Homo sapiens: one gene and its partners. The protein of the gene in region 1 purifies or fractionates together with the protein of each later gene. This does not show direct contact. Each region holds a gene or a part of one and is shown on either strand. Other genes may lie near its edges.

Region 1 (2,766 bases):
GGGAGCTACACCGCTGAGCTGGGCAGAGCTGCGGCACAGGGCCTGGGCTGCAAAGGAGCCCTGCTCCTTTAGTTTCCTGACACCTGTGTCCTGAGTGAGCCGCAGGAGTTCTTAGCTCCTCAGCGAGCAACAGAGAGCACTTTAGATGGCACCTTTCACCACTTGGTCAGAATTTTAAAAGCTTAGGTTTAGGTGAAAGTAGATATTGACAGCTATTCACCTTTCACGGTGCTGGGGCCAGATTAGGGATCACTCCCGTGAGGAGGGCCTTCACCCTGTTCTAGAAGCACATGGTTGTCCTCCTGTTGTTGGCACATTAAATGATAAAAAGCACCTCATGAGATTCCCTTGATCAGCCCTGCAGCTGTAGTACAGTGCTGTGCCCTCACCTCCACCCTTCCTGTTGTTCCCACGTGGGCAATACCAGGGACCCATGGGGAAACTCAAGAATGACAGCTTCTATATTTTGTAATTCTGGATGAAAGATAACTGTGTTGAACAAACAGGTGCTCCAGGCTTTGATTATAGATACGACTTCAAAAATATGCTAAGACGCTTGACTTATTAAGGACTTTAACCTACTCAACAGTATTTCATATCCATTGTGGTTAGTTACTCAGTTATGTTGAGAAGAATCTGGAGCTAAAAGCAGAGATGTTTGAGGTGACGGTAGGAATGTGAGCAGGATGGTGATGGGGGTTTTTGTTAAAATGCATCTGAGCAAGTCAGCCAGCCCCGAAGTCCCCTCAGTGTGTGTGTCTCGAGTGGCTACCTGTTGGGCTTGTGGGCAGTGATTGTACAGAGCCTGTCCATTGGGTGCAGTCATGTAGATCTGAAGCCCTGAAAAGCCTCATGTCTGCATCCCCTTTCCAAGGCTGCTTCCCTGGTGTGTCTGTTCTCTCCTCTGTCCCAGGTGCTGGGAGCGTCCTCTTCAGCGTCTTTTCCTAGAGCTGGTCACCACTAGGCTGTCACTATAAATTCCTTGAATATAAGTAACAGTTATTAATGAACTTCTAAATTTCTAATTTCTCTCTCTCTCTCTTTTTTTTTTTTTTGTTGTTGTTAAAAAGGGCCTACTACATTGGCGCTATTCTTAGGACTTCTGCAACTTTTAAAGTCTTACTTGTCTTTCTTGTTGCTTTTGTATTAGGAGTTCCCCGTGTGGGTCTAGAACTCCCCTTTGGTAATGCTTCTTTGTTTTTTTATGGCCCTTCTGTTCTCAGGATGGAGAGAACACAGAAGCTACTATCCATGTCAGGATTTATTCTATTTATATCTTATTACAATAAAATTAGTGGCACTTTATTCATAAATATTCATGAGCCTGTTAATTGTTAGTTGTCTTCCTGTAGCTGAATCAACAAGTTATTTTCAACTCAATTTTATGACTTGCGAAAAAGCTTTTGCCCTGTTGTGTACCATAACATTTAAAAGAATGGAAAATGACTGAAATCCAATTTAGATTATTTTTAGAGTATTTTTCCAGCAAATTCAATTTATTCTGAAATTTAAATCCAGATCTTTTCTAATATGGTATTACAATGAAAAGAATAAAGAGAAGATTTGAATTTTCAGTTTCATTTTCAAAAACTATTTACCAAAACAAATGGAGAAGAAACATCCAAAAGCACATTTCATTTCTCCAAACTTTGTGTTTTAAATTATAGTTATAAATTGTAAGGTAATTTTAAATTGTCCCTCGTATTATTTCTCCACGTCTGTTTTAGTTTAATGTCTCCTAAGCTTTTCTCTCATAGCGTAGACCTAGGGAAGGGATGGGAAGATTGCCCAGTCCCCGATGGCTGCGCACACAGGAGGCGGCGGAGCACAAGGCAAGTGAGTTTGCACTGTCAGCCCCAGACCGTAAGCTTGGCTACACTGATGTTTTTCTTTACTAAGGATACTATTCAAAAATTAACATTTTCATCTCAGTAAGTTTTTAGAACATCAAAATGTTTTCTGAGCTCCAAGTGGCTAGGTTGTAAAAGTTTTATAATAATTTGCAATTAAAATACATGATACATATTAATCCATTAAAGACTAGTGGGAATGTATCAGCCAGAGTAGCAAGTAATTTTTGTTTTATAAATCATAGTATCTGTCATCTTGCAGTATTACCAATGCTGTTGTAAATTGAATTTAAAGTGGTATTAAAAAAAACTGTTAAACAATTTTTATCTGTTTGTATATCTTACTATAGATTATGTACAAGTAACATCTAAATAAAATTACACTTTTAACCCTAAGAGGTTTTGCTTATTAATAACAGTGTTGTATGTTTGGCTTTTTTGGAAGAGAACTTGGTGTTAAGTGGTTTTTTGTTTTTGCTTTTGTTTAGCATTTTCCTTATTAGACAACAGAAGACACTACTTTGGTTTCCATTTAAATTTCTACATAATTTTTGTGTCACCAAGAGTTCAGATTGAATTCCTGAATGACTCGGGGCAGCACTAGTCTGGTTAGAAAGAAAAGGCCATGCTGGGAGTAGGGCAGCCACCTGTTGAGAGGATAGAGCCTGGGGCAAGAGGGTCTTAACCACATTTACTCTCAACGGTAAAAGTGAATAACACGCTGTAGTATGTATGTATTGCTTATGAGATGTTTTCATTTAATCCTTACAATAATCCTTAACATTCTGTTTCATATGTGGGAAAACTAGAGTGAAGCTAAGTTACTCTCTCAGGGACCTTGGTCGATAGAAAACTCAGTTCTGGGGCAGAATCACATGTTGGGGTAATGAGAGTCGAGATTGGGTGGGTAAGTGTG
Region 2 (2,680 bases), on another chromosome or scaffold:
TGCCTCAACCTCCTGAGTAGCTGGGATTACAGGCGCCCGCCACAACACCCAGCTAATTTTTGTATTTTTAGTGCAGACGGGGTTTCATCATGTTGGTCAGGCTGGTCTCAAACTCCCGACCTTGTGATCCACCCGCCTCGGCCTCCCAAAGTGCTGGGATTACAGGCGTGAGCCACCGCACCTGGCTGTCCTCCCTTATTATATAGAAACCCTCTGAGGTGGCCTGGTGCAAGGCTGGTCAGAAGTCAATCTTGGATCTGCCTCCTGCGAGCTGTGTGGCTTTGGCCAAGTCAACACTCTTTGCTTCAGCTTCCTCACTGGTAACGTGAGACATCACAGCCCTGTCTTGAACCACAAGACACTGCTGGGGAATGTGCTTTCAAAACCATGTTGCATCCCAGAATTAGGCAATATTATACATCACCTGTACTACAGAAGATAGACATACAACCACACAGTAAGACCCCTCAAGCAAGAGTTTAAATAAAATCTTCAGCTTCAAGATTCAAGCTGATTTCAAATGATTCATTTCCTGATTAGGGGAAATTATCTCTAAATGCTTAACCTAAGCAAGGTTAATACTTCAGAGAGGAAGAGCAGTTTTAGATCAATTGTAGTTAAATAATGCCACAATTTTGTTAAATTCAGTCTGGTCCACTCTGCTAAGTTTAATAAATGCCAAGTAGGATAGCCATAAAGGGTAGAAATGTGACCACACTACCTGCTAGGCAGGACAGGCCAAGCATGAGTTCTCAAGTTATCTTATAAAGGCAGTGGCTCTATTTTTTTTGGCCACAAACAACTAGTGGAAGCCCAATACATAAAAGAGCTAAGTAAGGAGCTATGCAGAGAGAGCAGGGAGAGATGCCCGCCCATCCATCCATCCATCCATCCATCCATCCAGCAGCTGGCCCTAAAGGAGCTCCATGGAGCACAGCTTCCAAATCACAGTCCTAAGGGGCATCCTAAGTCATTAATGTGATTGAGCTCTTTCATAGTTCAGTAATGACAAAGATCAGGAAAAAAGGAAAAGCCTCTAGATTTCATATTCTAATTTTTAAACAGAAAACACACGGAGCGGCCGGGTGTGGTGGCTCATGCCTGTAATCCCTGCACTTTGGGAGGCCAAGGCGGGTGGATCACTTGAGGTCAGGAGTTTGAGACCAGCCTGGCCAACATGGTGAAACCCCATCTCTACTAAAAATACAAAAAATTAGCCAGGCATGGTGGCGGGCACCTGTAATCCCAGCTACTCGGGAGGCTGAGACAGGAGAATCGCCTGAACCTGGGAGGCGGAGGTTGCAGTGAGCCAAGCTCATACCACTGCACTCCAGCTTGGGCAACAGAGTGAGACTTCATCTCAAAAAGAAAACACACCACGCATCATGGCGCACACCTGTAGTCCTAGCTACTCAGGAGGCTGAGGTGGAAGGATCGCCTGAGCCCAGGAGTTTGGGGTTACAGTGAGCTATGATTGTGCCACTGCACTGCAGCCTGGGCAACATAGTGAGACCTTATCTTAAGAAAACAAGCAACTGTTGACCTGCATGTTCCAGAGACTCCCTACACCTTAGTAAAGAGCTTCTATTCACTAGAATAGCTGTTTAAAGGATGGTGTGAATGGTGCCAAGGCCATGGGACTGAGTTCCACTCAGGTCAGTTTACAGCAGTTCAAGACTGTTCCATAAACTTCAACCTTATGCTAGCTAAGTTTTTCACAAATGCCAGCTCTAAGAAACATATTTTCTAGGTAAACATCTGGACATGGAAGATCTCTAACACATATTATTAAGAGAAAAAGAAAAGGCAAGTTGTGAGTAATTCATTAAGATAACGTTGATAGGGCTGGGCACAATGGCTCATGCCTGTAATCCTAGCACTTTGGGAGGCTGAGGCAGGTGGACTGCTTGAGCTCAGGAGTTCGTGACCAGCCTGGGGAACATGGCGAAACCCTGCCTCTACAAAATATACAAAAATTAGCCAGGCATGGCACATGCCTGTAATCCCAGATACTCAGGAGGCTGAGGCACGAGAATCGCTTGAACCCAGGAGGCAGAGGTTGCAGTGAGCTGAGATGACACAACTGTACTCCAGCCTCAGCGACAGAGTGAGACTCTGTCTCAAAAAAAAAAAAAAGATAATTTTTTATGGGGAAATGCACCCTCACAACAAATCTAGTGTTTCCACATGAACATGCACATAGGCAAACGCAATGAAAAACAGTCTGCAAAGATACACACAAACTTACACAAGTAGTTATTTCAGAGGACTAAGATTGGGGAGGGAGCCACATTTAAGCTATCTGTAATGTTCTCATTTTGTATAAAGAGAATGTATGTATTATTTATGTAATTTTTTTTTTAAAGGGCAGAGTCTTGCTATGTTGCTGGAGATGTTCTCGAACTCCTAGGCTTAAGCAATCCTTCCTGCCTCCCAAAGTGCTGGGATTACAGGCATGAGCCACAGCACTGGACTATTTATGTTATTTAAAAAATAAGTTTAGAGCTAGATTTGATTAGAATATAGCTCATATGTAGAATGCTCAGGCCTACAGAGGAAATGGCAGTGAACCTCAGTGAGTCAGGACAAGATTCAGAGAAGAGGAGGCCTTTGGGTTTAGTGGGGTGGGGAGAGCATGCAAAGCAGAGGAAATAGGGCGGGAGGTGAGAGAACATGTTAT
Region 3 (3,500 bases), on another chromosome or scaffold:
TTGAACAGAAACATGCCATGAACCACTCAGCAGGAGGGGGATCCTACTGAACAGAGAGGCCCATTCCGCTGGGACCTGGGCTGGATGACAGCACTGGATTTTCTCATCAGCAGATGGAGGCACGCCTCCAGGACTGCTCTGTGTTCCTTACTATTTATTTACCACCACTGCACACTCGAATTCTGTCAAGCTTCCAAAGCTGGCAGGGAAAAGGGTGGGTCCTGACCCAAGGAAAGCCAATCTGTGAGCCAGCCAAAAGCTGGTGAGTCTTTCTCAAACAGGAAAAATGGCAACAGACTGGACTGACAAGTTTCTCCCTGCCACTGGACTCTAAGAAGAAACAGAAAAAAACCCAGAAAGTTGGTGATGGGAAGGGAAAGTGAAAAAGAAACAGAAAGGAGACAAGGATGAGTCCAAAGCTGTAGGTAAGAAAAGTTGTCTGTGAGAAGGCATGAATAGGATAAAAAACAGTGGCATAAACAAGAGGGTGAGCTAGCTGGCTAATAGGCAAAGAATCAAAGACAGAGGAACTCAGGAACTATAACTGACAGGGGCATCACCTTACTCTTGCTGCTGAGAGGGCAACACGATGCTTCAGTTCTTTGATATGGAATGGATCCTTCCAATTCCTAGACTACATACTGTCCCACCCCTGTGAGGCCCAGTTATGTATCTGAGCTCATAGGAGTCCAGTTTCTGTTAGTGCCATGGGCGGCTTTAAATAGGCCTCCCTTACTGTGGAGGAACCTGGGGGAGTGACTTGGTCCTTGTATCCAAACAAGAAGCCAACCTCTTTTTAAAGTAGAACAGGGTAAAATGGGTTGGGATGCACTACATTTAGCAGCCTCCCCAATAAACTAAGCAGAAATACAGAGCTTTATTTGGGAACATCAGGATAGTTACATGTATATACAACTGACTTCAATGAAACCATGCCTTATATCTATGTTCTACAAAGAAAAAGAGAACTAAACAACTATCTAAATTTCTGATGGTAATATGGAAGTTCAGAGATAAGGTTTTAGAGTTACATTTTTGAGCTCATAAATGTATTTATCAGAATAAACACTGCCAGGTGTAGTGGCACATGCCTGTAGTCCCAGCTACTTGGGAGGCTGAGGTGGGAGCATTGCTTGAGCCCAGGAGCTCGAGGCCAGCCTGGTCAACATAATGAGACCCTGTCTCTAAAAACAAAACAAAACAAAATAGAATATTGCTAACCGCCAAGTAACTCCTTTTCTTCCCTAATAATGTAGAAAGAATACTTTCTAGTTCTAAATCTCCGATCCAAGGGATGTCACAGTTGGCTGGCCCATTCTGAAAAAAAAAGATTTATGAAGAATGGTACTTCAAAGGGACATCAGTCAGTTGTGATCCCTCTAAATATTATAAAACCAAACAGTGTACAAGTTAATTTCACCTGAGTTAATTCTCTCCAATATGGATATAACCCATGTGACAAAAGAATTATTACGATTTCTGCTGCTACCATGAGCCTAAGACATTGACAGCCATATATATATATTTTTTAACCACAAGCCTTAAGCATTCCATATGAGCATACTTGCAATGCTTCTTGATTTGTTCTTCTCTCCCTGAAACATCTGACTCCATGCCATAAATACATTTCCAGGGTTTAAATTTTTCAGAAACATTTTTTCTATTGATACCAAATTTACCTCTCCTTAAATTGAACAAGAAAATATCTGAATTTGTATCTATACATAGATATAAATTCTACGTATATATTCTGCATCTGCATCATTCTAAAATATCTGGGATGTTGTGGTAAATATGGTACTTACTGCTACCAGATTGATTTGTATCAAAACACTATATGCCCTTATATTGAACTAACTGGTAATGGCTTTAAAAATGAGAAAGTATTGATCCTTATAATTATATAAACGTTCTCTACAAACAACAAGCCCAACTTTAGTGAGTTTGGTTAGGTTCTTGTAATCTTTTCTATGCTTTCACATTAAGTTATTGTGCCCAGTCCTTTTTCTCATCTTATAAAATTAAAATGCTTCCAATAAAAGAAAAAAAATACAACACAGTTTAAAAAGTTAAAAAATAGAAAGTGAAAGTCACTTTCACAGAAAGTTGTAGAAAGTGAAAGGCCTACTCTTTAAAATAGCAAATTAAGGCTACAAATTTAAAGTTGGAAATAATAAAAATTATAAAAGTTAAAAATCTCATAGCGACATTAACTTCTTCTTGAAGAGAAAGCTTGGATTTTTAACTATTTGAGGATTTTATTGCATTTAAATCAAAACACAATCATTAGGCTTTTCTAAAACAGAACACGTGCAATGAGTAAAAATTATTTTGGAGACACTTAAAATTTTAACTTCCTAATATAAACGCTCAAATTTGCAACCTTAATGTTACATAGATTCAGATTTACACAGTCAGATTATATAAGCAAACCATATTAATGTTCCTCCTAGTCTACCATGTTATCTAAAGAGCAACTTTCCTGTACCTTGTCTCTTCTTGCCTTTCAACTGACTGTAGGTGTCCCTCTGAACCCTGGCATCAGACAAGTTGATTTAAAAAGTTAATTTAGGATACTATCAATAAAATTAGGACACTATCAATAAAATTGCACTAAATTTTAAACATATAGCATAAATTTTAGCATATAGTATACTTATATGCTAACCTATGACAAAGAAAAAATAATTTGGGGTACTTGTCAAGATTTAAGTCATTTTAATTTTAATGTCAGAACAGTGACAGGTACAGTACAGTGGTTTCACAGGCTTGGAGGAACGTAAGTGATGGAGAAGGCAGGAGAGTGAAGTTAAGGAGGTGGCAGATAGACAATGCTTAGTTCCACTTGAGACATTGTCACCAGACCTGCTGGCAACTGTACTGAAGATCATTCTATGCTAGATATGGAAGGCATGGGGTGGCATGGGAGTAAAAGGGAGGACAACCCAGATAGTGAGGAAAAAATAAGAGCGTGCTGCCCGTCAGCCAAAGGTATCTCATACTACTTCACCAGAGTTGTATGGATACTGCAAATCACACACTATTCTCAGGCATTTGTGGGGAGCAACAAAACCAGGAGTGTCATCTTCCAGAACCAGACACATGGTGATTGGAAGATGTAACAAAAATAGAATATGCACCAACATTCAAGATGTTCACTGTAGCTACCACATGAATTCCATTCTGCTTTAGATGTCTCCATTGTATTTTATGGCATTATGTGGTATAAAATTAGAAAATTTCATTGAGCAACAACTAAGACTTATGAACTCATATGCTAAGGATACGCAGATTTTAGTTAAGTATTTTAATTATTTATCTAATAAGCATTAATTAAAGAAAGACACAGAATATATGACAGAATTGAATTCAATTAACAATCATCAAGAACCAAAGTTCAGAAATAAAGGTAAAAGTTTTTTGAAACTATTATGTGAGTCATATGAGAAATTATTTGACTATAACAATTCAAGTTTCGTATTAAGTTTTAGAAACACATA
Region 4 (3,500 bases), on another chromosome or scaffold:
GATGCAGAAGGCCTTTGAGGAGGGGCAGGTGAGCAGGACGGGGTAGGGGGTCCTCCAGGGAGGGTCAGGTGGGGGTGGAGGGGGGCCTTCGGGGAGGGGTAGGTGAGCAGGACTGGGGGGGTACCTCCAGGAAGTGTCAGGTGAGGAGGTGGGGGGTGGGGTAGGGGCCTCCGTGGAGGGGCATGTGGGTGGGCACCTCTGGGGAGGAGCAGGTTGGGGGGGCCTTTGGGGAGGTTCAGGTGAGGGGGGCCTCCAGGGAGGGGCAGTTAGCAGGGGGAGGGGGCATTCAGGGAGGGGCAGGTGAGGGGGGCCTCTGGGGAGGGGCAGGTGAGTCGGGGGCACACCTGGGCTACGCCTGTGTTGGCCCTGCCACAGAGGCTGTGAAACCCTGTCCCACTGTCCTGATGGGGTTGTGGGGAGTGGTGACAATGACTTGTTATAACCAGAGAAGGCTGAGGATGGTGGACCCTGGTGCTGGCTCCTGAGGGGTCATAGCAGGGGTGGCCCCCATCAGGTTCAGCTGGACATTTCAGGCACCATCTGGGTCTGGGCACAGGGGTGGTGGGAGGTGGGGCCAAGGGGTGCCCTCCCCTGTGTCTGCCCAGCCCACAGCAGCCGGGTGAGGGTGCAGTGGGGAGGCCACCCTGGGCCCTGCTTCCTCCCCCGTCCCTGGGCCTCAGTGTCCTTGGGCTTAATGACAGGGCCATGCCGGGTGGGGGATGCAACTCCCATCCCTCTTCATTCCCGTATGACCCACTCTGCCCCTTCCTGCTGCCCTGCAGCAGTGCCCTCCCCTCCCCTCCCCACCACGGGGCCCTCTGCCGTCGCTATTGGGGATGGTCTTGGGTAGGGTCTCCCTGGTAGGTGTTCAGAGCCACCACTCTGGGGGGCCTCTGCTTGTTCCTGCCCCAGGCCCAGTGGGACTGTGTGAACCCCAAATACAAGCAGAAGAGACGCAGTTATAAGAACTCAGGAGTGGTCGTCCTGGCTGACCTCAAGGTGAGAGGTGGCTGTGCCCGAAGCCTCCCCACCCACAAGAGGGGCTTCCGCTGCCTCCCTCTGATTGTTGGATGGACCCTCAACCAGAGGCCTGGTGGGCCCCAGCACGTCTGGGGAGGGGCTGAGAGACGGGGAAGGGCGAGGTTGGGGAGAGAGGATGGGGGAGAGGAGAGGAGGGTGGCACCCCAGAGGGACTGGGCTGCCTGCGGGAGGCAGGCCTGGATCCCAGCTGGCACTGGCCTCAGTGTCCCTGGCGGGGGTGGACGCTGACTCCGCCGGCCGGAAGTTCCACAGGGTGTACTCCTTCCTGGACTATATCATGGGCGGCTGCCAGATCCACTTCACCGTGAGTCCATGGCCCCGCCCCATGCCGCCCCCTCAGTCCGTGGCCCCGCCCCGCCCCGCCCCCTCAGTCCGTGGCCCCGCCCCTCCCCGCCCCCTCAGTCTGTGGCCCCGCCCATCCCCGCCCCCTCAGTCCGTGGCCCCGCCCCTCCCGCCCCCTCAGTCTGTGGCCCCGCCCATCCCCGCCCCCTCAGTCTGTGGCCCCGCCCATCCCCGCCCCCTCAGTCCGTGGCCCCGCCCCCGCCCCCGCCCCCGCCCCGCTCCCGAGGGGTCCCAGCCTGGCGGGTGAAAGGGCACTGGCGGTTCCCCGTGAGCCGATGTCTCCATGCGCGGCTCCTGGGGGTCCTCCCTTTTGCGCAGGCGAGGAAACGGGCTTGGGGTTCAGGAAGCAGCCCCAAGCCCGCCTTGGGAGGTGACATCACCAGGGCTTACCTTCCACAAACACATTTAACAACAGACAAAACGTGAACGAGGAGAAACTGGAGTGAGCGTTTGAGTGAACCAGCCACAGTCTCTACGTGTCATCCAAGGAGCCCGGCACAGACCCCGTGTCACCCCCATGTCACCCGCAGACCCCGCGTCACCCATAGATACGCACACCCCGTGTCACCCCCATAGCACCCCCGTGTCACCCACAGATACACGGCCCCCGTGTCACCCGCGTGTCACCCACAGAAACACGGCCCCCGTGTCACCCACAGATACACGGCCCCCCGTGTCACCCGCGTGTCACCCACAGATACACGGCCCCCGTGTTACCCACAGATACACGGCCCCCCGTGTCACCCGCGTGTCACCCACAGATACACGGCCCCCGTGTCACCCGCGTGTCACCCACAGATACACGGCCCCCCGTGTTACCCACAGATACACGGCCCCCGTGTCACCCACAGATACACGGCCCCCCGTGTTACCCACAGATACACGGCCCCCCGTGTCACCCGCGTGTCACCCACAGATACACGGCCCCCCGTGTTACCCACAGATACACGGCCCCCGTGTCACCCACAGATACACGGCCCCCGTGTCACCCGCGTGTCACCCACAGATACACGGCCCCCGTGTCACCCGCGTGTCACCCACAGATACACGGCCCCCGTGTCACCCGCGTGTCACCCACAGATACACGGCCCCCGTGTCACCCGCGTGTTATTTGCAGATGCGCTGGTTCGTGTTTTGTTGAACGAGCCCCAGAATGGCTTTGGGAGAAGCCAGCAAGTGGGAAACGTGGGGGGACCCAGACCAGGCTTGGTCCACTTAGGCCCTGCCGGGGAGGGTGGTAGAGGGGTTGGGCGGCCACTAAGAAGGATGGGCGGGGCCCCCACAAGGCCAGGGTGATCCTGGTGGGGTGTCCTCCCGGAGATCCAGGGAGCCTAGGGGCTGGCAGGTTTTGAGGAGACCTCTCCTGGCCCTGTGTAGCAGGTGGGTCAGCCCCAACAGCAGCCCCCCAGCCCTACCCACCTACGCGACCCCTGACCCTGAGTCCTGGCCACTCTGGGCGTGGTTTCTCTACCTGTCAGGAGCGGGTTCGGGGAGCCCCGGCCCAGCACAGCTCCTGGCTCCCGGCCCACTGCAGGTGGCCATTGACTTCACCGCCTCCAATGGAGACCCGCGGAACAGCTGCTCCCTGCACTACATCAACCCCTACCAGCCGAACGAGTACCTGAAGGCACTGGTGTCCGTGGGCGAGATCTGCCAGGACTATGACAGGTGCGCCCACCACCTTCCCCTCACCCCCTGGTCTCCAGGTCAGCTATGACAGGTGCGCCTGGCCGTCTTCCCCCTCACCCCCCTGGTCTCCAGGTCAGCTATGACAGGTGCACCCGGCCGGTTTTCCCTCACCCCCCTGGGCTCCAGGTCAGGCCTCGGGGCACCATGAGGTGGGCACTGTGAGTTTGTCAGACTGTGAGGGGCCGGGCGCGGTAGCTCATGCCTGTAATCCCAGCATTTTGGGAGGCCGAGGCGGGTGGATCACCTGAGGTCAGGAGTTTGAGACCAGCCTGGCCAACATGGTGAAACCCCATCTCTACTGAAAATACAAAAATTAGCTGGGCGTGGTGGCAGATGCCTGTAATCCCAGCTACTCAGGAGGCTGAGGCAGGAGAATCACTGGAACCCGGGAGGCGGAGGTTACAGTGAGTCAAGATCACACCTTTGTA
Region 5 (3,500 bases), on another chromosome or scaffold:
TGGCAGTGGTATTCAGCGTACTGAGAGGTGTGCCTCTACCCTTTCCTGACCCTGCCTCCCCCTTCCTGGCTCATGGCCATGGGCCTCAGCATCAGCCAGATCCATGCCCCCAGGGCTGTGTGACAGACGACAGGAAGCCAAGAGATGAGCAAGGAGCACCTTCAGGGAGACCCGGGCCACACTGGGCCATGTCCCAGGCCATGGGAAGTGTATCTGCCTGCTCCCAGCCACCAGGGTATATTGAGGGAAGGTTTGAATATACTGACTTAACTTTGGAAGTACACACTGCTAATGTTAATAAAAAGTGCTCCAACTAGGACAAGCGTTCACTGGGACTGTCCCGTGACATGTGGCACTTTTGGCTTCCTTTTCATAATTAGTAAAATAAAGTATTTCTTGAAAAAACAAAAGAAAAGCACAAAAACCCAAAAACCCCACAAAACACTGGCTTTCAGGTTCTATCACCGAGGCACAGCTTAACCTGCTTCAGACTAGTATGCACAAATGTTTAGGTACTATTAAAATTCTTTCATTCTGTTGCAGCTTGAGAATATATTTAAAAAAAAAAAAAAAAGAAAAAAAAGAAAGGAAAAGGAAAAAAAATTCTATCTTGTAAGATTTTTTTCCTCAGGAAATGATAGGATTTGGTCACATCTCCCATAATGCACTCTCAGAAGATGACTGCAAACTCTCCGCTGTCTCATATTTTGTAATAGAATATGAATCTAGCTGAGATGAAGTTAGGAGAGCCAGCCAAAGGAACAATCTTGGCTTCTTTTCTTAGAAAGTGCAGCTTCAACCCACCTGAGGCACCTGGGCAGAGTGTCAGCTACTACATCATTCCCATGCTAACTGCATGTCCTTGACCAGAGGGACCTAATAATGGTGTGCTGAGTGCCCAAGAAAGTCAGCCAAGGTCACAGCACACTGGCTAGTAGTACAATGTGTTTATGCAGGGTGATCTATTGATGATACATAAGGTAATTTCTGAGGGTTTTGTTGAGACAAACAACTATCAAGATCAAATGGCAGGCCAGGCATGGTGGCTCATGAGAGGCCAAGGCAGGTGGATCACTTGAGGCCAGGAGTTCGAGACCAGCCTAGCCAACATGGCAAAAGCCCATCTCTCTAAAAACACAAAAGCATGGTGGCGCACACCTGTAGTTCCAGCTACTGGGGAGACTGAGGCACAAGAATCACTTGAACCTGGGAGGCGGGGGTTGCTTGCAGTAAGCCAAGATCACACCACTGCACTCCAGCCTGGGCGACAGAAAAAAACCCAAAAAGACCAAATGGCAGAACTCTGTACTGGAAGGACCGTCCATACAGACAGGCCAACTTCAGGAGCAGAGCACAAGCTGGGGCATGCGGGGAGCAGCCTTCCCAGAAGCTTCCGAGCCACACCACCTATGCACCTCCCCCGCTGCCTTGCAACCAGAGTTGTATAGTCAGCCTTCAGAGGCAACTACTCCTGGCTAAAGTTAGTGCTGCCTATAACATAAAGCTCCACAGTTCCCAGTTGAGGAGATAATCTACTGTGCCCCTGGAAACACTGCCCATAGACCATGTTTCCCAAAGTCTCTGTGACTTTGAGCACAAGCAGTGTTCCTCTAGACCCAGGCTAAAAAAACCAACAGACCACCCAGGAGAGGACAACTCTTCCCCTCCCACTGAGAGCCCTTGAGGGTTCCAAGCAGCCTTGTGGAGGGCAGACTGCCAAGGAGAGCAGGGCTCCCAGACAGCAAGCCGAGCAGAGAGTGCTGGGGCATCTTGGCAGAGGGCTGAAGTGAAAACCTCAAGTGAACAGGGATTCCCGGAGGCAAGTGGAGTCCTGTGCAGGGCTGAGTTGCAGTCCACCAGATGACAGCTCGTGTGGCACTGGCACCACATTTAGGAGCATGTGCCTCTGCACAGCCCAGGCTGCAAGGGCATGTGCAGCAGATACAGGCAAGGCCTCCATCGGCCCCTGCATCTCCTGGAACCATAACCACTGGCCTGCTCTTACCTTTGCCTCCTCGGTCTTCAGAAGGGCCTCCTGGGGCCTCCATCTCTCTGTGCTCAGAAGTGCCTGGGCCATCATGCCAGGGGCGCTTTCGGGGAGGTAGGGATGCCATGTCCATGCCTTGGAGAGAAGAGGAGCGTTCTCTGCTGGCTGGGGAATGACCGTCGTGAGGGGGATGATCAGGGCGGGGAGTATCACGAAAATGTTCATGACCTGGCCCTGAAACAAGAAACAAATCTCCTTACAGGAAAGCACAGTGTGACCAGAAGTAGATGGGAATGACACTGTGAGAGTAAGGAGCAACTCGAGAGCCACCGTTCACTCATGCTGAATGCCCGCCAGAGGCCAAAGGGTAAGCCACCCAGACATCAGGGTGCCTCCTCATGTAAGAGGGGCAGGTAAGATCCAGAGAACTCGTTCTCAGGCATTGTAGTATCAAGACGTCTTTACAGTCTCAAATTACTGAGGACTCCTAAGAGATTTTGTTAATGAGAGTTGTAACTGCGAATATTTACCATATTAGCAATTGAGACTGGGGAAATTTTAATTCACTTAACTTTATTCTCCAAAAGCAATTTAGTGGAAAGAGCAGTCCCGTTTTATACTCAGATAGATCCCTGTAATGTCTGGCGGATTCCTCTGCTCTGCATTCCACCTGCTGAGATCAAGTGCTGCGGCTGCAGGACAGGAGACAGCCCAGCCCCCCGGGAGACATGAGCTGGAAAGAGGAGACCCGGTGCACCCCAGAGAGGGCCCTCAGAACTCACTTTGTGAACTGCAGTCTAGAGTTACCCAACAAGCGGTTCTTTTCCTTACCAGGCTCTCTGTTTCCATCCCAGGAATCTGGCTTCCGCCCTCCTTCAAAGCGAGGGAACTCGTCAGGAGTGGGAAGTAAACCCTTCCTTCCTCCTACACAACAGAGCAAACAATGCTGCACTCAGACTGTTCCTGGTGTATTCACAACCAGTGTATTCTGCACCCTATCCTTCCAGACCAGGTGTCTTTAGTAACTCGCTCACCTCGTGGGGTACCCCGACCTCGACCTCTGAGATCTCGTCCTCGGGCCGCTTCCTCAGAAGCATCAAAATTCTCCTCTGGACCAAAGTCTTCAGGACCAGGAAAACCATCCCTTCCTCTGGGGGGAGCACGGCCCTCATGCCTCGGCGGGGCTCCTCTTCTGAAACTGTAAAGAGAAAACAGCAGAATGTCCATCTCAGAGAACACCTTGCCACTCTAAGTTCATGTTTCAAAGAAGCATATGATATGAGAAAGCATGATACAATGTTAATTGGGAGGAAAACAAAATAAAACTATATATTTTTGAAAGGATACATTATATAATCCTATTAATACTATCAGAGGCAAAAACAGACCAGAAGGAAACACACCAGAGTGTGGAGTTACTTTAAGCTTCTTTTAGGCTTTTAGGTATATACAAGTATTACTTCATTTCATTCATTTCATTTTCACAGCCACCATATGAAGCTGGTATTATCAG
Region 6 (3,500 bases), on another chromosome or scaffold:
CTTGCTGTGAGCTGAGATGGTGCCACTGCACTCCAGCCTGGGTGACAGAGCGAGACTCTGTCTCAAAAAAAAAAAAAACCCCACACAAAAATTAGCCAGGCATGGTGGTGCATGCCTGTAACCTCAGCTACTTGGGAGGCTGAGGCAGGAGAATCGCTTGAACCCAGGAGGCGGAGGTTGCAGTGAGCTGAGATTGCACCAGTGCACTCCAGCCTGGGTGACAGAGTGAGACTCCATCTCAGAAAAAAAAAAAAAAAAAAAAGATAAATAATCTAAGGTTTCACCTTAAGCAGGTAGGAAAAGTGAATCAATGCCGGGCGCGGTGGCTCATGCCTGTAATCCCAGCACTTTAGGAGGCCGAGGCAGGCGGATCGTGAGGTCATGAGATCGAGACCATCCTGGCTAACGCGGTGAAACCCCGTCTCTACTAAAAATACAAAAAATTAGCTGGGCGTGGTGGTGGGCACCTGTAGTCCCAGCTACTTGGGAGGCTGAGGCAGGAGAATGGCGTGAACCCAGGAGGCGGAGCTTGCAGTGAATCAAGATCGTGCCACTGCACTCCAGCCTGGGCGACAGAGCAAGACTCCATTTCAAAAAAAAAAAAAAAAAAAACAAAAGAAAAAGATAAAGTGAATCAAATAAAACCCACAGTAAGTGGAAGGTAGAAAATTAAGAGGAGGTCAACGCACTTTACACAGACTACTGACAGACACAAATCAACAGAGCCCAAAGTTAGTTATGAGAAGGTTAATAAACTTGGTAAATCCCTAGCAAGCCTGATCAAGAAAAATACTAGAGAAAACACAAATTCTCAAAAACCAGAACAAAAGAGGGGGCATCACTACAGATCTTACAGGCAGGAGAGGGGATTAATAACCGAAACCTTCCCACAAAGAAAATCCTGTGCTCCGAGGGCAGCACTGGCAAATCCTAACAAATATCTAAGGAAGAAACAATAACAAGCTTTCACAAACTCTTTTTTTTTTTTTGAGACAGAGTCTCACTCTGTCTCCCAGGCTGGAGTGCAGTGGCGCAATCTCAGCTTACTGCAAGCTCCGCCTCCGGGGTTCACGCCATTCTCCTGCCTCAGCCTCCCGAGTAGCTGGGACTACAGGCACCCGCCATCCCACCTGGCTAATTTTTTGTATTTTTAGTAGAGACGGGGTTTCACCATGTTAGCCAGAATGGTCTTGATCTCCTGACCTTGTGATCTGCCCACCTCAGCCTCCCAAAGTGCTGGGATTACAGGCATGAGCCACCGCGCCCGGCCCACAAACTCTTTCTGAAAACAGAAGAGGAGGGAATACTTCCCCACCCATTTTATAAAACCAACATAACCCTGCCACACAACCTGCCATAGGCATTATACGAAAATTACAGACCAGTACCTCTAATGGACATCAACACAAAATACCCCTAACAACAATATTACCACATCAGTCCCTCAACACAGGAAAAAGGATCACACACTTGGAATAAATGAGGATTAGGCTGGTTCAACATTCAAAACAGTCAATCAGTGTGGTCCAGTACATTGAGACTGTCTCAAAAAAAAATAAAATAAAATAAAATAAATATAAAATAAAATTTAAAAATTAAATAAAAAAATAAATAAAATAAAATAAAATAAAATAAAATGGATCCTGGCCCTAAACGCAAAAGCCTACACTGGGAAGCATCCAAAAGAAAACACAGGAACTGGCCCAGCGCGGCGGCTCACGCCTGTAATCCCAGCACTTTGGGAGGCTAAGGCTGGTGGATCACCTGGGATCAGGAGTTCGAGACCAGCCTTGCCAACATGGTGAAACCCCATCTCTGATGAAAATACAAAAAATGAGCCGGGCATGGTGATGGATTCCTGTAATCCCAGATACTCAGGAGGCTGAGGCAGGAGAATTGCTTGAACCCAAGAGGTGGAGGTTGCAGTGAACCAAGATCACGCCACTGCACCCCAGCCTGGGTGACACAGCAAAGCTCCACCTCAAAAAAAAAAAGAAAAAAGAAAAGAAAAAGAAAACACAGGAACTTCCACAGTGAATTCCTAATTTACAAAAAATAAAAGAAAACACGGAAGAAATCTCCAGAAATTTGGTCAAAGGATGACTTCTTAGGATGCCAAAAACCCTAAACCATAAAAGAAAAACACATACGAATGGACATCATAAAAATTAATTTCCACTTATCAAACCACAATGATGGAGGCCGGACGCAGTGACTCAGTCCGTCATCCCAGCACTTTGGGAGGCAGGTGGATCACCTGAGGTCAGGCACTGGGGACCAGCCTGGCCAACATAGTGAAAACAGGTGGATCACTTGAGGTCAGGCGTTGGGGACCAGCCTGGCCAACATGGTGAAACCCCATCTGTACTAAAAATACAAAAATTAGGCCAGGCACGGTGGCTCACGCCTGTAATCCCACCACTTTGGGAGGCTGAGGTGGGTGGATCAATTGAGGTCAGGAGTTCAAGACCAGCCTGGCCAACATGGTGAAACCCCATCTCTGCTAAAGATATAAAAAATTAGCTGGGTGTGGTGGTGCGTGCCTGTAATCCCAGGTACTGGGGAGGCTGAGGCAGGAGAATCACTTGAACCCTTGAGGCGGAGGTTGCAGTGAACCAAGATCACGCCACCGCACTCCAGCCTAGGTGACAGGGTGAGACTCTGTCTCAGAGAAAAAAAAATTTAGCCAGGCGTGGTGGCGGGCGCCTGTAGTCCCAGCTACTCAGGAGGCTGAGGCAGGAGAATGGTTTGAACCTGGGAGGCAGAGGTTGCAGTGAGCTGAGATCGCGCCATTGCACTCCAGCCTGGGTGACAGAGCGAGACTCCGTCTCAAACACACAAACAAACAGAAACTGTGGTGATGAAGGCAGGCAGGTGTTGCCAGAGGTTGGGGGTAGCCACCAAGGTCGGGGATTCACAGGTTTGGAGTGATGGGGCTGATGGGTCGACTATGGTGGCAACAGAACCACACCCCCACGTACACATGGCTTTTACTGTGTGATAACTTAGAAAAAAGCAAACCATGGACCCGGGCTCAGGTGCCCCCCACCCACTGTCAGGGCCAATCTGATCCGGCCCCCACCTGGCTGGAGAGACTTCCCACCAGACTCTCACCCTCTCTCTGGTCCCCAGTGTCCTCATCGGGGAGAGGCAGGAAAGCCCCACCCACCCTCCACTCCTCACTCTGTTGGCCTCTGGGCAGACGAGGCTCCTGCTGGCTGGGGGCCAGGCCAGGCCAGCTGGGGCCAAAGTCCAGGAGCCAGGCTGAGAGGCCCCAGGCTCCTCCCGAAGAGGGCAGAGTCCCTGAGAAAGGTGGTGGAGCTGCCCAGGAAGAGGGGACTAAAGTGAACTCGGCCACTGCTCTGTGCCTTCCCCTGGACACTGAGCTGGCCGAAGTCACCAGCCTGGCTGTATGCAGGGTCTAGCTGCCCAGGCTGCTGGGAGGGCCCTGGTCACCCAAAACAGCCCGATTCAAGAGCTCAGGGACTCCTGATGGCTCT
Region 7 (3,500 bases), on another chromosome or scaffold:
CAGAGACCCAAGGTCCAAGGGGGTCTCAGCCAGGACACCATCTGTCCAGTCCCACTCCCATGCCCAGACATGGCTCCTTCCAACCTAAGAGGGCCCAGGCATCCTGACCTGCCCTGGGAGGCTGTCCCCTGCATGAGTGACCTCTGTCCCACCCCCTAGACTTGGAGATCCCAGCAGCAATGTTACCACAACAGTCGGAGAAGTCTTGGGCACCGGTGGCCTTGGGCTCTGGCATGGGCCGACTCAGGCCCAGGTCGCTGGGGGCAAGGGGGCAGGAAGGTGCTTCCTGCTTGAGCTCTCGGATGGCGTGGTTGGGGAGCGCCGTGCTGTACAGGAAGCTGGCCATGGAGGAGGAGGTGGCGGTTGGGGGCAGGTCCTGGGGTGGCACCTTGGGGGCCTGGCCATGCAGGCCACAGTCCCGTGACCCCTTGGGAATCAGGGAGACACCGTTCAGCTCCACCAGGGCCTTCGAGTCCCGCCCGCCATCCTCAAGTGGCCTGAGTAAAGGAGAGGACACATGGACAGCTTTGTACATCTGTTTCACACATTGCAGCTCTTCCCCCGAAAACCCCGCATCCCTGCCCTCTGCAGAACATAACAGCCCCATGAGGAGGGCAGGACAGGAGCTGCTCTTCCACTTCACAAGTGGGGATGCAGGCTCGGAGGTGGGAATGGTGTGCCCAGGGCCACAGAGCTAGGCCACCGGAGGACCTGGGCCCTGCCCCTCTGCTCCAATCCACTGTTCAGATCCCGCCAGGTGCGGTTGATTGCCTCCTGTCTCCTGCTGCACCCCTCCCCTTCCTGCCTCTGCATTGCCTGGGGCACTTAGCAGAGATGGGTTCAACCTTAAGCCCTCAGGCTGCCTTCTTGGCTCTCCTGACAACTGGTACTGCCTCAGACCAGCCTCAACAACCTAATCTCCCCTGGATCCCTAATTAACCCCAGATTTACAACCTGAGCAAGCACAGGACATGGTTCTCCCGTTTCTGACACCTAAAATGCCATATTTTTTTTTTAAGAGATGGGGTCTTGCTCTGTTGCCCATGCTGGAGTGCAGTGACGCAATCACAGCTCACTGCATCCTCAAACTCCTGGGCTCAAGCAAGCCTCCTGCCTCAGCCTCCTGAACAGCTGAGATGACAGGTGTGCACCACCACACCTGGGTAATTTTTTTTATTTTTATTTTTTGGCAGAGACAGGGTCTTGGTATGTTGCCCAGGCTGGTCTTGAACTCCTGGCCTCAAGTGATCCTCCCACCTCAGCCTCCCAAAGTGCTGAGATTACAGGCATGAGCTACTGTACCCGACCACTTTGGTGCTATTTTGTCCCAAGTCATGTCTCTTCAAGTCTCTCTGCAATGCAACTTCCCTGGGAAGACTTCAAGGCTTAATGACCTGGCTCAGATCCTGTTCTATGACTTCGCTTTCACTTCACCTCCACCATCAGACTGGGAGCTTTCACCACCAGGGTCCCCCACGGGCATCTCAAGTCCCTTCCCCTCTGGCTAAGTGGCCTCCAGCCCCCGGCCCTGACCCGGCCCTGGCCCAGCCCCAGCCCAGCCCCGGGCCGGCTACCTCACTCACCTCTTGAGCTTGAAGCGGATGCGGTGGCTGTGTTCCAGGATGGCCATGAGGGCCTTGGGGTCATACTCGGCTGGCCTTCGGAAGGCCAGGCCTTCGGGCAGCCCCTGCACGGCCAGCAGCCCTGGCTCCCTGAGCAGCCTCTCATAGGGCAGTGGCACCACACTGGCCCTTCCCAGGGCCTCGCCTGTAGGGGAGAGTCCAGGAGAGGGGCCTGGTATGAGAGGGCAGCCAGGCTGGGGTCGGGGCTGCTGTGCCCCAGAGTGGGGGCAGTGCTGAGTGGCTCCCCTTGGTGCGGGGTTCCCATGGACCCCTCATAACTGCAGACTTTGTGCAGAATAACCGCCTGCAGGCTGGGGGTGGGTGGTGTGGACAAGGCCCAATTGTCTGCATCTGGGGGGCTGGGGCTCCCCCACCAAGCAGGTTCCCTGCTGCCCTCCCCGACCAAGCCCCTCTCCACTCTGGGCACCTGGCTGGAGGGGAAATCGGGGACTCAAGGGCCCAGAGGACAGAGCAGAGGCAGACAATCCGGTAGGAGAAAAGAGGGCAGAAGAGACGGAGAAGTGGGGACTTGCATGAGCCAGGCTGCAAGGAAAAAGCTATAAGGGCTGGGCGTGGTGGCTCACGCCTGTCATCCCAGCATTTTGGGAGGCTGAGGAGGGAGGATCACTTGAGGCCAGGAGTTCGAGACCAGCCTGGCCAACATGATGAAACCCCGTCTCTACTAAAAATACAAAAATTAGCTGGGTGTGGTGGTGCATGCCTGTAATCCCAGCTACTTGGGAGGCTGAGGCAGGAGAATCGCTTGAACCCGGGAGGTGGGTTGCAGTGAGCCGCTGCACTCCAGCCTGGGTAACAGAACGAGAATCCATCTCAAAAAAAAAAAAAAAAAAAAAAAGGTGTAGGGAGGAAGGGAGAGAGACCGAGAGGGGGGAGAGAAAGTAAGAAGAAGAGGAAGTGGAGAGGGAGCAAAAATAGGGGATTGAGAAAAAGATGGGAGAGGCTGGGCGTGGTGGCTCACGCCTGTAATCCCAGCACTTTGGGATTACCGAGGCAGGTGGATCACTTGAGGTCAGGAGTTTGAGACCAGCCTGGCCAACATGGTGAAACCCCGTCTCTACTAAAAATATAAAAATTATCCAGGTGTGGTGGCAGGTGCCTGTAATCCCAGCTACTCAGGAGGCTGAGGCAGGAGAATTGCTTGAACCCAGGAGGGGGAGGTTGTAATGAGCCGAGATCATGCCATTGCACTCCAGCCTGGGCAACAGAGTGAAACTTCATCTCAAAACAACAACAACAACAACAACAACAACAACAACAACAAAGACAGGAGAGAGGAGAAAGAGACAGACTGAGAAGACGCAGGAACAAAGATGGGGGCTCGGGGGCACAGAGGAGGGGAGGCAGGCTGGGGACTGAGGACTGGGCACTGGGATATCTGTTGTCACCTCCATGCTACAGCCCCCACCCTGAGCCAGAAAGAGGCCCATCCTCTCATAGCCTCCTTGAATTCTGCCCAAAGTGGACAAGGGGGGCCAGGGCAAGGCGGGCAGGGGCGCGGGGCCCTGCAGCTGGCAAAAGTGTCGACAGAGGCACAGCCAACCATGCGTGGCAAGTCCCCCATCCCAGGGTGGCCAGTGTGACCACCCAGGGCCTCTGGGTACCCCTCCTTCTGACATAAGAACAGCAGAAGTTTCCTCACAGACCTTTGCTCCATAAAACCAAAGGCTACAGTAGGAGAAGGGATAAAGCCAAATCAGAAATGAATGAGGTGGGACCCTGAGCACCAAAGGGACCTGCCCGATGTTTCCCAGGGCGTGTGAAGACCACCACTGGGGCCCTGAGGCCCTCTGCAACCTGACGCTTCCCAAGGGAGGCCAGGTCTCCTCTTCCTGCAGGAAAGACATGGCTGAGCAATCA

Evidence for each region.
Region 2: the proteins of WASF3 (region 1) and SUPV3L1 purify together in Homo sapiens (affinity purification with mass spectrometry; one large-scale study listed by BioGRID and IntAct). This does not show direct contact.
Region 3: the proteins of WASF3 (region 1) and CD47 purify together in Homo sapiens (affinity purification with mass spectrometry; one large-scale study listed by BioGRID and IntAct). This does not show direct contact.
Region 4: the proteins of WASF3 (region 1) and CPNE7 purify together in Homo sapiens (affinity purification with mass spectrometry; one large-scale study listed by BioGRID and IntAct). This does not show direct contact.
Region 5: the proteins of WASF3 (region 1) and WDR33 purify together in Homo sapiens (affinity purification with mass spectrometry; one large-scale study listed by BioGRID and IntAct). This does not show direct contact.
Region 6: the proteins of WASF3 (region 1) and EPS8L2 purify together in Homo sapiens (affinity purification with mass spectrometry; one large-scale study listed by BioGRID and IntAct). This does not show direct contact.
Region 7: the proteins of WASF3 (region 1) and GTF2IRD1 purify together in Homo sapiens (affinity purification with mass spectrometry; one large-scale study listed by BioGRID and IntAct). This does not show direct contact.

The regions. Positions count from the first base shown.
Region 1 is NC_000013.11:26,686,683-26,689,448, forward strand, and holds the end of WASF3 (actin-binding protein WASF3), read left to right. Parts: 3' UTR 1-2,266; downstream 2,267-2,766. UniProt on the Homo sapiens protein: Downstream effector molecules involved in the transmission of signals from tyrosine kinase receptors and small GTPases to the actin cytoskeleton. Plays a role in the regulation of cell morphology and cytoskeletal organization.
Region 2 is NC_000010.11:69,204,234-69,206,913, reverse strand, and holds part of SUPV3L1 (ATP-dependent RNA helicase SUPV3L1, mitochondrial), read right to left. Parts: intron 1-2,680. UniProt on the Homo sapiens protein: Major helicase player in mitochondrial RNA metabolism. Component of the mitochondrial degradosome (mtEXO) complex, that degrades 3' overhang double-stranded RNA with a 3'-to-5' directionality in an ATP-dependent manner.
Region 3 is NC_000003.12:108,053,032-108,056,531, forward strand, and holds part of CD47 (leukocyte surface antigen CD47 isoform 1 precursor), read right to left. Parts: intron 2,536-3,500; exon of another isoform or gene 2,489-2,535; intron 1,318-2,488; exon of another isoform or gene 1,222-1,317; intron 1-1,221. UniProt on the Homo sapiens protein: Adhesive protein that mediates cell-to-cell interactions. Acts as a receptor for thrombospondin THBS1 and as modulator of integrin signaling through the activation of heterotrimeric G proteins.
Region 4 is NC_000016.10:89,585,758-89,589,257, forward strand, and holds part of CPNE7 (copine-7), read left to right. Parts: coding exon 1-28; intron 29-912; coding exon 913-999; intron 1,000-1,285; coding exon 1,286-1,345; intron 1,346-1,798; coding exon of another isoform or gene 1,799-1,837; exon of another isoform or gene 1,838-2,917; coding exon 2,918-3,051; intron 3,052-3,500. UniProt on the Homo sapiens protein: Calcium-dependent phospholipid-binding protein that may play a role in calcium-mediated intracellular processes.
Region 5 is NC_000002.12:127,706,672-127,710,171, forward strand, and holds part of WDR33 (pre-mRNA 3' end processing protein WDR33), read right to left. Parts: intron 3,186-3,500; coding exon 3,022-3,185; intron 2,912-3,021; coding exon 2,819-2,911; intron 2,222-2,818; coding exon 2,006-2,221; intron 1-2,005. UniProt on the Homo sapiens protein: Essential for both cleavage and polyadenylation of pre-mRNA 3' ends.
Region 6 is NC_000011.10:712,731-716,230, reverse strand, and holds part of EPS8L2 (epidermal growth factor receptor kinase substrate 8-like protein 2), read right to left. Parts: intron 1-3,500. UniProt on the Homo sapiens protein: Stimulates guanine exchange activity of SOS1. May play a role in membrane ruffling and remodeling of the actin cytoskeleton. In the cochlea, is required for stereocilia maintenance in adult hair cells.
Region 7 is NC_000007.14:74,516,406-74,519,905, reverse strand, and holds part of GTF2IRD1 (general transcription factor II-I repeat domain-containing protein 1), read right to left. Parts: intron 1,768-3,500; coding exon 1,584-1,767; intron 498-1,583; coding exon 187-497; intron 1-186. UniProt on the Homo sapiens protein: May be a transcription regulator involved in cell-cycle progression and skeletal muscle differentiation. May repress GTF2I transcriptional functions, by preventing its nuclear residency, or by inhibiting its transcriptional activation.